Linked DNA regions of Homo sapiens: region 1 is linked to region 2. The links come from fine-mapping of genetic effects on plasma protein levels. A gene starts in region 2. The other region holds a variant in brackets. All regions are shown on one strand. Distances are between the middles of the regions.

Region 1 (5,363 bases), 180 kb after region 2:
TCCTTGTATGGTCCCCTACCCTGGAGCGTGGCTGGGGCCTGTGCTCTACTGCTTGGAAGCAAGGCTTATCCCTAAGCCTTATTTTCGGGAAGGTGGATTTGAGAGCTACTATCCCACATCCTTGCTTGGTGCCCTGTGAATAAATCTTTTCTCTTTTGCAAAACTCGTGTCATGGTGATTAATTTACTGTGCAATGCCAGGCACTGTTGGAAACCTCTGGATAGGCCTCACAGGGCCTCAGCCATCTCGGGGAGGCGTTAGCTAGAGTGTAACAAATATGACCCCAGCAACTGGGGAGGGACAGCTCATTCCTTCATGAGGTGTGGGGCTGGCAGCCCCGCAGGCAGTCAGCCACCCTTCCTCTCTGGCCTCCGTCCTGGGCACTGGGCCCAGGCACTGGGCAAGGAGGCTGCTGCACCTCCTTTCTCCTCTTCCTTTTTTTTTATTTTTTGAGACGGAGTATGGCTCTGCCGCCCAGGCTGGAGTGCAGTGGCGTGAGCTCGGCTCACTGCAAGCTCCGCCTCCCGGGTTCACGCCATTCTCCTGCCCCAGCCTCCCGAGTAGCTGGGACTACAGGCGCCCGCCACCCCGCCCGGCTAATTTTTTGTATTTTTAGTAGAGACGGGTTTCACCGTTTTAGCCAGTATGGTCTCGATCTCCTGACCTCGTGATCCGCCCCCCTCGGTATCCCAAAGTGCTGGGATTACAGGCGTGAGCCACCGCGCCCAGCCTCTCCTCTTCCCTTTTAGTGGGAAATATACCTGCAGCCTAGATTCCCAGAAAGGGGTGGTGAGAGAGCAGACACGCCACTGATTGACCCGAAGTTCTAGGAGCCAAGGGATGAGTGAAGAGGGCGTGGCCGGACTCGGGGCTCCTGGTGAGGTGCACCGCTGCAGGCTCGGTGACCCAGCAGTTCCTGCCCAACCCTCACCTACCCCCAGCCGTTCCTGTCCGCCGCCCCCAACCAGCCATTCCTGCCCGCAGTTCCTGTTCCCGGGCCTGTCCCCGGGTTTGTCCCCAGGGCCCGTCCCCTGGGTTTAGGTCTGCCCTCCCACGCCCCACCCCATTGCCCCCGCCATGGGTCTGCTGTCCCAGCCCTGCCGTTCAGTCTACATCTTCGCCAAGAATGGCATCCCCTTCGAGCTTCGCACAGTGGAGCTGACCAAAGCTGGGCTGGGCAGGCAGGCCCAGGGGATATTGGCCGCGGATCCCTGCCTGTCCCCGCTGCTTTGCAGTTGGGCCAAGAATGCAGACTAACACGAAGAATCAGACTCTCCGGTGTGGAAACTATTACATAATTATCTATGTTATTATTTTTACTTTTTGGAGACAGCATCTAACTCTGTCACTCAGGCTGGAGTGCAGTGGCACAATCATGGCTCACTGCAGCCTCGACCTTCCAGGCTTAAGCGATCCTCCCGCCTCAGCCCCTCAAGTAGCTGGGACTACAGGTGCCCACCGACATGCCTGGCCAATTTATTATTATTATTATTATTGAGAGGAGGTCTTGCTGTGTTTCCGAGGCTGGCCTAGAACTCCTGGGCTCAAGTGATCCTCTTGCCTTGGCCTCCCAAAGTGTTGGGATTACAAGCATGAGCCGCCATGCCCCACTGGTTGTCTATTTTAATAGAGGCTTGATCTTTGCTTGTGAATACAAAACATTCTTCAAAATACAGGTTTAGAGAGGGCACAGCAGGCACAGAACGAGGGTAGGGAAATGGAGTGGGGCAAGAATATCTTCACCCCATGTGCTTGGAAAAAACAATGAAACTGCCTCGTTGTTTCCTAAGTAAAATAGTCCCTGTCTACCCCTGCCTGTGTCTCTTCCACTTTTGTATTATTTGTTTGTTTATTTATTTATTTATTTATTTATTTATTTATTTATTTATTTATTACAGTGTCTCAATCTGCAGCCCAGGCTAGAGGGCAGTGGCATGATCCCGGCTCACTGCAGCCTTGACCTCTCAGGATCAAGTGATCCTCCCAACTTACTCCTCCTAAGTAGAATAGTTGGGACTACAGGCACGTCCCCGTGCCCAGCTACTTTTTTCTTTGGTGTGTGTAGACGCATGATTTTGCCATGTAGACCAGGCTGACCTTGAACTCCTGAGCTCAAGTGATCCTCCTGCCTCCTCCTTCTAAAGTGTTGAGATCACAGACATGCACCACCATGTCTGGCCCTGGGTCTCTTCCACTTTTATGTATTTCTTGGCATTCTTCTGCCTTTTCCTTTTCCTGCATCTGACTTGCTCTATCCCATGGGGCTTCTCACCCAGCTGAAGGGGCTACTCCTAGAGGCTAGAGGCTGGAGGGCCCTGTGGCAGGGCAGTGGGGGAGGCCAGCACCCTCACCCTGAGCTCCAGCGTTTGCTGGTCTGGCTGGCATACAGAGATGCAGCTGGAGCACAATTCAGTGGAGGAGGCAGGGCTATAACTAAGCAGTAGGGCAGAGAGCAGAGCCAGAGCCCCCTGGGCAGGCCAGAGGGAGGACCCTGCTCAGCTGA[C/G]TCTTCCCAACTGCTGCCCTTGGTACAACCAGCTTGAGTCACCTGCTACAGAACAGGGGCTGGACACAGAAGCAGTCTGTGGAGGGAGAATGGGCAGGGGTGTGTATGTCCATTCAGTAGAAGGGCAAAGAGGCCCACATGTAGGCCTATGATCAGACTGGAGCCTGGCTTGACTGAGGTCCTCTGATCCAAACACCAGGCACCTAATGCGGCCTCTAGCACTGGCCTAGAGTGCTAAAGTGAGTCAGACCTGGGAACCCCCACTGGGGAGGGAGCCTTGAGAGTTTGGCATAAGAAAGCAAGAAGAGCTGAGCCACCGGAGGCTAAGTAGCTGAATGGGGCAGGGATTCCCAGCAAGAATGAGGTTGGTCTGAGGGTTGGGAACATGTTTGGCTGGGACTCTGGGGTATTGACAGGTCACCCAGCCTGGCCAGTAGGGCCTAAGTCCCCAGCTGGGATAGGAAGCTGAATCAGAGGGGGCAAGCCTAGAGCCCAGGGAGGAGGCTGGAGGGGTCTGACCTATGGATGGAACTGGCTGGGGGTGGGGTGTGAATTACAGCTCCAGGGAATTGTCCTTGAGCCATGCTTCAAGGAGCTGGACACAGGAAAGATGGCCCTCTGATGGGGTCAAGGTCTGTGACCCAGTGACTAGCAGAGAGGCTTCCTCTTCCCTGATGCCTCCCAGATAGGGGCCTCAGAAAGCTGCTGCTGGGATTTTGGGGTGGGGGTGGGCAGAGACCTCAGAGAACTCTGGGTTATCCCCACTCACCTCTCTGATCTTTCCTGCAGGCCAGCAGCACAGCGATGCCTTTGCCCAGGTGAACCCCCTGAGGAAGGTGCCGGGCCTTGAAGGATGGGGACTTCACCTTGGCTGAGAGGTAACCGGTCCGTGGGCTGCTGCCGGGCCTTGTGGGGCCAGTCGGCTGTCTGTTCACTGTTGATGGCTTGGATCATGGACTGTGGGCCCTGCACCAGCCCCAGGGTGAAGAATGGGTGGAGGCAGGCAGAGGTGCCCAGTGTTGACAAGGGTTATAGAAGTCCCCTCCTGCATTGTACAAGTGAGGAAACTGAGGCTGGAGGAGGGGAGGGACTTGCACAAGGCCACAGGGCCCAGTCTGCTTCCGGGCCTCCTCACCGCCAGCCTTCCCCTCCGAAAAAAGGAGAGTGCTAAGTTTCGAGGAGCGGCTGTACCAGGCATCTTAGTGCTACCATTTTGCCCACAAATCCTGTGGGGCAAGTGCTGTTTCCCTGGAGAGTCGAGGGACCACTCAGCGAGCTTCAGTGGCTATTTGCTAAACATCCACCAGGGCCAGACCCCATTTAAGCCCTGGGGCTTGAGCAGTGAACGTGTCTGCGTCCTTCTCCTCATGGATCTCACATTCCATTAATAGAAGGGGGAGCTGACAGTAACCCATGTAAACATGGAACATATCGGATGTTGATGGATGCCATGGAAAAAATAAACAGGGTAAGAGTGGGGGTGTGTGTCATTATGAGTAGGATGCTGAGGGAAGACTCCCTGGAGGAGGTGGCATCTGAGCAGGGAGCTGTAGGAATGTGCAAGGCATGAGGAGAAGGGTGTTCTCACTGGAGGGAAGAGTGAGGGCGAAGGCTCCAGGTGGGACAATGCATGGGGTTCAGACTGGAGAGCAACGGGCCAGGGTGGGTGCAGTGAGCAGGAAGAGCAGGAGGTCACGACAGAGGGGAGCATGGGACACTGGGAAGGCTTTGGCTCTTACCGCAGGTGGATTGAGTTGTTGGAGAGTTTTGAGCAGAGGAGAACTGTGATCTGACTTACGTCGTAAAGGATCCCCCTGGCAGGGGTGAGAAAGCCACTGCAGTCATCTGGCATGCAGCGCTGGAGCCCCAGACCAAGGTGGTGGTGGTGCAGGGTTGCGGGGGATTGTGGTCAGTTCTGACTTTTATTGAAATCTAACTGCAGGGTTTGCTGAAGGGTTGGAGGTGGGTGGGAAAAATGAAAGCCAAAACCAGCCTCCAGGTTGGTGGCCGCATGGTGGCGTCCTTTACCGAGGCCACATAGTGCCTCCTTGGTGGAGCTGGATTCACATTCAGAGCCTGGGATCACTGGATGGTCCAACACCCATAAAGGCATGATGAGCTCTGAGGGTCAGACTGCACAACCCTTCACCATAGGTGAACGGGAGTTGGGACAGGGTGGGAAGCAATGCTGCCATGTCACCTGGAAGGCTCTGTCCCTGCTGGCCTTGCTCCTGGCCCTGTCCACACTTTGGATATGTTGGGGAGATATCCAACATGCTCTCGTTCTTCAGACTCACACTGGGTGCCCCTTCCTCCTGGAAGCCTTCCCTGAGCCCCTGCTGAAGTTCATGACATTTTGTTTCTTCCTTGCTGCCCTTAGTTGAGATGACAGTCTGGCCCCGTGTAGGGCTGTGTGACCCTGGGTAGTTACCTAACCTCTCTGAGCCTCACATCCCTCCTCTGCATCATGGGGATAGTGAAAATGCCCCAGAAAACGGTTGAAGAGTGTTCAGGGCATGTCTTCTGCCCCTGCCATGTCCCCCCAGTGTGGCTAGCTTGCTCTATATGAGCTGCATGTACAAAGCACCTGACCACTGGTACCTCCAGGACCTGCAGGCCCGCGCCCATGGGGATCAGTACCTGTCATGGCAGCACATGGCCCTGCAGAGTAGCTGCTGCTGGGCCATGTGGCAGACGGTGAGCCATGGAGGGCAGGGACACCTCCCGGGATGCCCAAGGGATGCTGCTTTCACTTTACAAAATTCTGTTTAGACCTGAGACCAAATCCTGGAATGCCAGAGACTGCCTAATTCACCCAACTTGTTTCATAGGAGGGAAACCAAGGACCAGAGCCAAGGAA
Region 2 (5,352 bases):
GCAGAGAATGGGATGCAGAGGTAGAGACAAGAAGGGTAGAGGTGGCAGGTATCCCTGATAAGGGGGAGACCATGGGTTCATCCTGGGATTCCACCCTCAGAGTCAGATGCCCTTGGGATCACCGACTAATGCCTCTCCACCTCACTCTGGACTGCCCAAGGAATCTGTCCTGTGCTACCCACAGTGCAGATTGCAACAGGGCTCCTCCTCCCCACCCAGGGCCCTGATTAAGGGGATGGATTGCACACTGTAGTGAGACATCCATCCTGACCCCACCTCATCAGCCAGGGAGCTCCCTGAAGACAGGCCATCGAGAGAGGCACACAACAGGCTGTGGTCTAAAATAAACTTTTAATTGCACATTTGTGTCTTGGGTTATCTGTGGGGTGAGAAACCTCCTCACTTCCAATCCCAGCTATCTGGGTACAATCTGGTGTTGTGGTCTGGCTGTCGGCGAGGGGTAGAGGTGGGTGCAGGACTGGCCCCCGAGTCTGCACCGACCTCTTCAGGGCAGGGAGCTCAGACCTGGGAAGGGAGGGGCAGCACAGGCTGGTGGTCAGCCTGCAGGTGCAAGAGGAGGGTTGGCCTCTCCCCCTCCCCGCCTGAGTCGGGGTCCACTCACTCACCATGGTAGTACTTGCACTGCTTCAGGGCCTCGCTGAAGCCCTCACACAGGGACAGGTCACTCTGAGTGGTGGAACAGTCCAGGAACTGCCTGATCTCGTAGGCGCAGGGCCCCATCTGCAGGGGCTGGGGGGCAGCGGGGGTGGGGGCCTGGGGGTACAGTGCAAGAGGCTGCAGGATCAGCTTGGAGTTGGCACCTGGAGGTGCGTTTCAAACCTGGGGCCACCTGCCCCTCCCCACATCCCCAGCCTGGGTGTCCCAAGGGTCCTAGGCAGGCTGAGTGATCCAGCAGCAGAGGCGGCTACAGACAGCATGTTTCTGCTGCCTTTTTTTTTTTTTTTTTTTGAGACAGAGTCTCACTCTGTCACCTAGAGTGGAGTGCAGCGGCGCAGTCTCGGCTCACTGCAACCTCCGCCTCCCGGGTTCAAGTGGTTGTCCTGCCTTGGCCTCCCAAGTAGCTGGGGCTACAGGCGCCCGCCACCATGCCCAACAAATTTTTTGTATTTTTAGTAGAGAGGGGGTTTCACTATGTTGGCCAGGCTGGTATCGAACTCCTGAACTCATGATCCACCCGCCTTGGCCTCCCAAAGTGCTGGGATTACAGGCATGAGCCACTGCGCCTGGCCTCTGCTGCCTTCTAATGGGCACTTTGGGCGGGTGCAGGAGAGGGAGGAGAAGGCTCTAGGAAAGCCCAGTACTCTGCCTGTACTCTCAGAGTATGAGCCCCACCCCCACAAGTTCTAGCACCTTCCTGGCTCAGCTACACTAATCCTCATGACCCCTGACCTAGCCACAAAGCCACATTTGGCTTACGGCGGTGGGGTTCCTAGCAGGGGAAAGGTCATCAGGGAAGTGGCTCCCCTTCGCCCTTGCGCCCAGCGGCCACAGTGCCCAGACCTGGGTGTGGGGAGAACAGGGGCTCAGGAAATCCAACATCCCTCCCCTCTGCTAGGGTGAGGTGACCTTGGGCGAGTCTCTGAGCCCTCAGGGCCTGGGTTTCCCATCTTTAAAGGGCTGGTTGGTGTCTCTCCCTGGGAGCTTAGGGACCCTGGCCTCAAGGGAGAGGCCGGGAAGCCTGCCTCTAAGTGACAGTGAACTCAAGACCAGTGGACTAGGACCCTTCCCGGGCAGAGTCCTGGGCTGAAGCAATGGTGAATACACGCGGACACTCCTCACTGGACACTTGGGCAGCTCCCTGTGTGGCCTCGAGATAATCCTGCCTCAGTTTCTCTTGGACTCGCTGCTCACCTGCTGGACAGCAGGCTGGGAGGGCTCCGAGCTCCCCCCGCTGAAGGCTCCGGTCAGGGCGCTGCCCATGACGTGTCCCACAGCCGAGCCCACGGCTACCCCTGCGGCCGTGGTCGCCATCTGAGCCATGAGCCCCGGCTGGCCCGAAGGGGCGGGGGCTGGGGCGGCTGCCGAGGGCGGTGGGTGCGCGGGCGGGTGGGCAGAGGGCGCGGCTGGGCGGCTGCGGGGGTGGGAGGAAGCAGGGTTAATCCTGGCCAGACCCCAGGCTGGAGGGCTGCAGCTCCTGGAAACGACCCCCGGAGAGATGGACGACCCACGTCTCCACACGTGGGTGCTGCACCCCCACCCCTCCCCCCGCCAAGATGGCGCAGCAGCAGCCAAGGTCACTCTGCGGACGCCCTTAGGGGAGTGCCCACACTTCCCTAACCCCCTCCCCACAGGGCCCTTGTCCCCCTCACACCTGGCTGGCCGGGAGGCCGCGCTGCGGCTTCCCCGAGGCATGGTGGCGGCGGTGGGACCCGGGCGACCTTAGAGACGGCGGCAGCGGTGCTGTCGCGGGGACAAATGCCGCAGCGCTTGTCACAGCCGGCGCAAAAAAGGCGGGGCCCCGGGCGGGGCCTCAGGAACACGCCCCCAGCGGGAGGCGGCACTGCCCCCAACCCTATCCCCCTTCTCCCGTCCTCCGGACATCTCCCTTCCAGCAGCTCCGGGTCTCGGCTGGAAATGGGACCCTGCTCCCTCCCTGCGCCTGGCAGGCTGTGCGGGTTCTGGGGACAGGGGCCAGTGTCGCAAAGCGCCGAGGGCTTAAGGAGGGCGACAGTGCCTTCTGTTAGGACCACCGCAGAGGGCAGGGAGCGGAGTTGGGGGTTGTTGCGAGCCCTGGAGGGGAGAGGAGACGGGGAGGCGACGGGATGGGGCCAGCTGGGAAGGGGACGCGAGGCTCCAGGCTGGACTCCGCTCTCTGCCCCCTCCCGGACTCGGCTGTCTGTCCCCTCCCTCCAGACAGGGTCTGCTGACCACCGCGTGGCCTGGGAGTCTCCGGTGGCCTAGGGAAGTGAAGCGCGGCCCTGGGGAAGGCCTGGAGCAACCCATCCCCAGAACTCCCACGAGGGGGCGTCCCAACCCGTCTTCGACTGTTGGCCAAAATGCGCTGCCAATGCTGGCAGCCTTACGCAGTGCCCGCGGGGGATATGAGGCCCCCCGCGCGGCCCTGAACCCCACCGGATTCCCCGGGCCGGCCCGACCGCCCCCACCTAGTCCCTGGCCCCGCGAGTGCAACCCCCGACACTAACGGCCTTTACGCGACATCCGAGCAGCGTGTCTATCCCAAAGGCCTAGGAGCATTTGCCCGGCTCGGTCAAATCTAGCGCAAGTTTGAAGCCTGCGGCCTCGCAATTTTAGCAGCTTCGTTCCAGGCCAGGTGAGCTGGAGCGCGGATTTAGAATGCTTTCCTGCTCTTCGAGAACTTGAGGTTTTAATTTTACTTTTTACTTTTTTTTTTTTGACACGGAGCCTTGCTCTGTCGCCCAGGTTGGAGTGCAGTGGCGATCTCGGCTCACTGCAACCTCCACCTCCCGGATTCAAGCAATTCTCCTGCCTCAGCCTCCTGAGTAGCTGGGACTACAGGCTCGTGCCACCACACCTGGCTAATTTTTGTATTTTTAGTAGAGACGGGGTTTCACCATGTTGGCCAAACTGGTCTCCAACTCCTGAGCTCATGATCCTCCTACCTCAGCCTCCCAAAGTGCTGGGATTACAAGCATGAGCCATCGCGCCCGGCTGAGCTTGAGGTTTTTATGGTCTTTTCTGGGTGACTTTGCAGTGGTCATATTATTACTCCTAGGTGGGGGAAGGTAGGGACTGTCCCTCATCACTGCTGTGCCTGCAGAGGACTCCTGACACCGGGATTGTCGGCAGGGTGCAACCAAGAGCAAAAGCACCCAGAAGTGGGGGTGTGGGTCACCAAGTAAGAGAGGAGGCCCCTCCATAAGGAAGGAGCAGGTCAAGGGGCAAGGGGAGTGGTGGCTGGGGCGTTTGGCCCTGCCTGGCATGCTCAATTCTGTGTGTGCACAGCTGTCCCCAGCCATGCATGCTCTCCATGGAAGTCAGGTGCAGCCCTGTGTTCTCTCACACTGCAGTCCTTTCAGCCAGCCTGTGAACAGGGCCCTTCCCCGCCCTGTCTTCAGTTTCTCCTCTCTGAAGGGGGGTGACCACCCACCTTGAGGGTGGCCTCCCAGTGAGGTGAGCACACCAAGGGTGGGCCATTCTTTCCTGGCAGACTCACCAGGCCTGGTCCAGCCGCTACTCCCTTGTTCATGCAGTCCATGCCACCTGGTTCCTGTTTGCCACACCAAACAAACTGAACACTTCTCATGGTGGTCCCCGGGCCTAAACTGCAGAGAGTTGTTACTTCAGCTCCCATGGCTGATGGACTGCAGGTTCCACAAAGCATGGCCTTGCACCTCGGAGGCACCCAAGACCACTTAAGTGGGTTACACAAATGAAAATGAGGCTGAAAGGATGACACTGAAGCAGGCATTGAAATGCCAACTTTTTTTTTTTTTTTTTTTTGAAACGGAGTCTTGCTCTGTCGCTCAGGCTGGAGTGCAGTGGTATGATCTCCACTCACTGCAACTTCTGCCTCCTGGGTTCAAGCGATTCTCTTGCCTCAGCCTCCCGAGTATCTGGGACCACAGGCACATGCCACCATGCCCCGCTAATTGTTTGTTTTTTGTTGTTTTTTTGTTTTTGTTTTTGTTTTTTTAAACAGAGTCTCACTCTGTTGCCAGGCTGGAGTGCGGTGGTGTGATCTCAGCTTACTGCAACCTCCACCTCCCGGGTTCAAGTGATTCTCCTGCTTCAGCTTCCCAAGTAGCTGGGACTACAGGCACGTGCCACCATGCCCAGCTAATTTTTTTTTGTATTTTTAGTAGAGACAGGGTTTCACCATGTTGGCCAGGATGGTCTCTTGTGATCCGCCTGCCTCAGCCTCCCAAAGTGCTGGGATTACAGGCATGAGCCACCACGCCTGGCCTGAAATGCCTACTTTTTAAAAATGAGTCACTTTAGCGGGGAATAGTGGCTCATGTCTATATCCCAGAACTTTGTGAGTCCCAGGCAGGCAGATTGCTTGAGTCCAGGAGTTCGAGACCAGCCTGGCCAACATGGTGAAACCCTGTCTCTACAAAAAATACAAAAATTAGCAGGGCATAGTGATGCACACCGGTAGTCCCAGCTACTTGGGAGGCTGAGGCAGGAGGATCGTTTGAGCCTGGAAGGCGGAGGTTGCAGTGAGCCAAGATCACACCATTGAGCAAGACCCTGTCTCAAAATAATAAAAGTAAATAAAAGTGAGTGACTTTAAAGAAAAGATTGCCTTTCAGGCGCGGTGGCTCACGCCTGTAATCCCAGCACTTTGGGAGGCCGAGGCGGGTGGATCACCTGAGGTCAGGAGTTCAAGACCAGCCTGGCCAACACGGT

Which allele goes with the higher level. Alleles are on the strand shown, and positions count from the first base shown. The strength of an association depends on the size of the effect and on how common the allele is.
As copies of G replace C in region 1, the plasma level of the protein whose gene starts at base 2,471 in region 2 goes up (strong association).

What was found. PIP is the posterior inclusion probability: the model's chance that the variant is causal. The UK Biobank Pharma Proteomics Project read protein levels with antibody pairs (Olink). The fine-mapping took linkage between variants from a reference panel, not from the people measured, so its PIPs are less certain.
Region 1: its variant is fine-mapped to the plasma level of the CHCHD10 protein (UK Biobank, PIP above 0.99).

Annotation. Positions count from the first base shown.
Region 1 is chr22:23,948,841-23,954,203 of GRCh38, forward strand. No RefSeq gene overlaps it. Among named protein-coding and RNA genes, the nearest start is that of GSTT2B, 9.7 kb to the right of the region's middle. RefSeq lists enhancers at 2,818-3,509, 3,510-4,201. The variant C/G (reference allele first, on the strand shown) is at 2,504.
Region 2 is chr22:23,765,502-23,770,853 of GRCh38, forward strand. It overlaps CHCHD10 (coiled-coil-helix-coiled-coil-helix domain containing 10), which reads right to left and starts at 2,471. Exons shown (of 4, transcript NM_213720.3): 1 at 2,333-2,471; 2 at 1,873-2,092; 3 at 627-774; 4 at 333-525. The coding sequence starts at 2,373. The coding sequence ends at 506. It overlaps C22orf15 (chromosome 22 open reading frame 15), which reads left to right. Exons shown (of 6, transcript NM_182520.3): 6 at 220-362. The coding sequence ends at 231. LOC107985577 (a long non-coding RNA gene) reads left to right here and starts at 2,725. Exons shown (of 3, transcript XR_007068022.1): 1 at 2,725-3,292. RefSeq lists enhancers at 9-808, 809-1,608.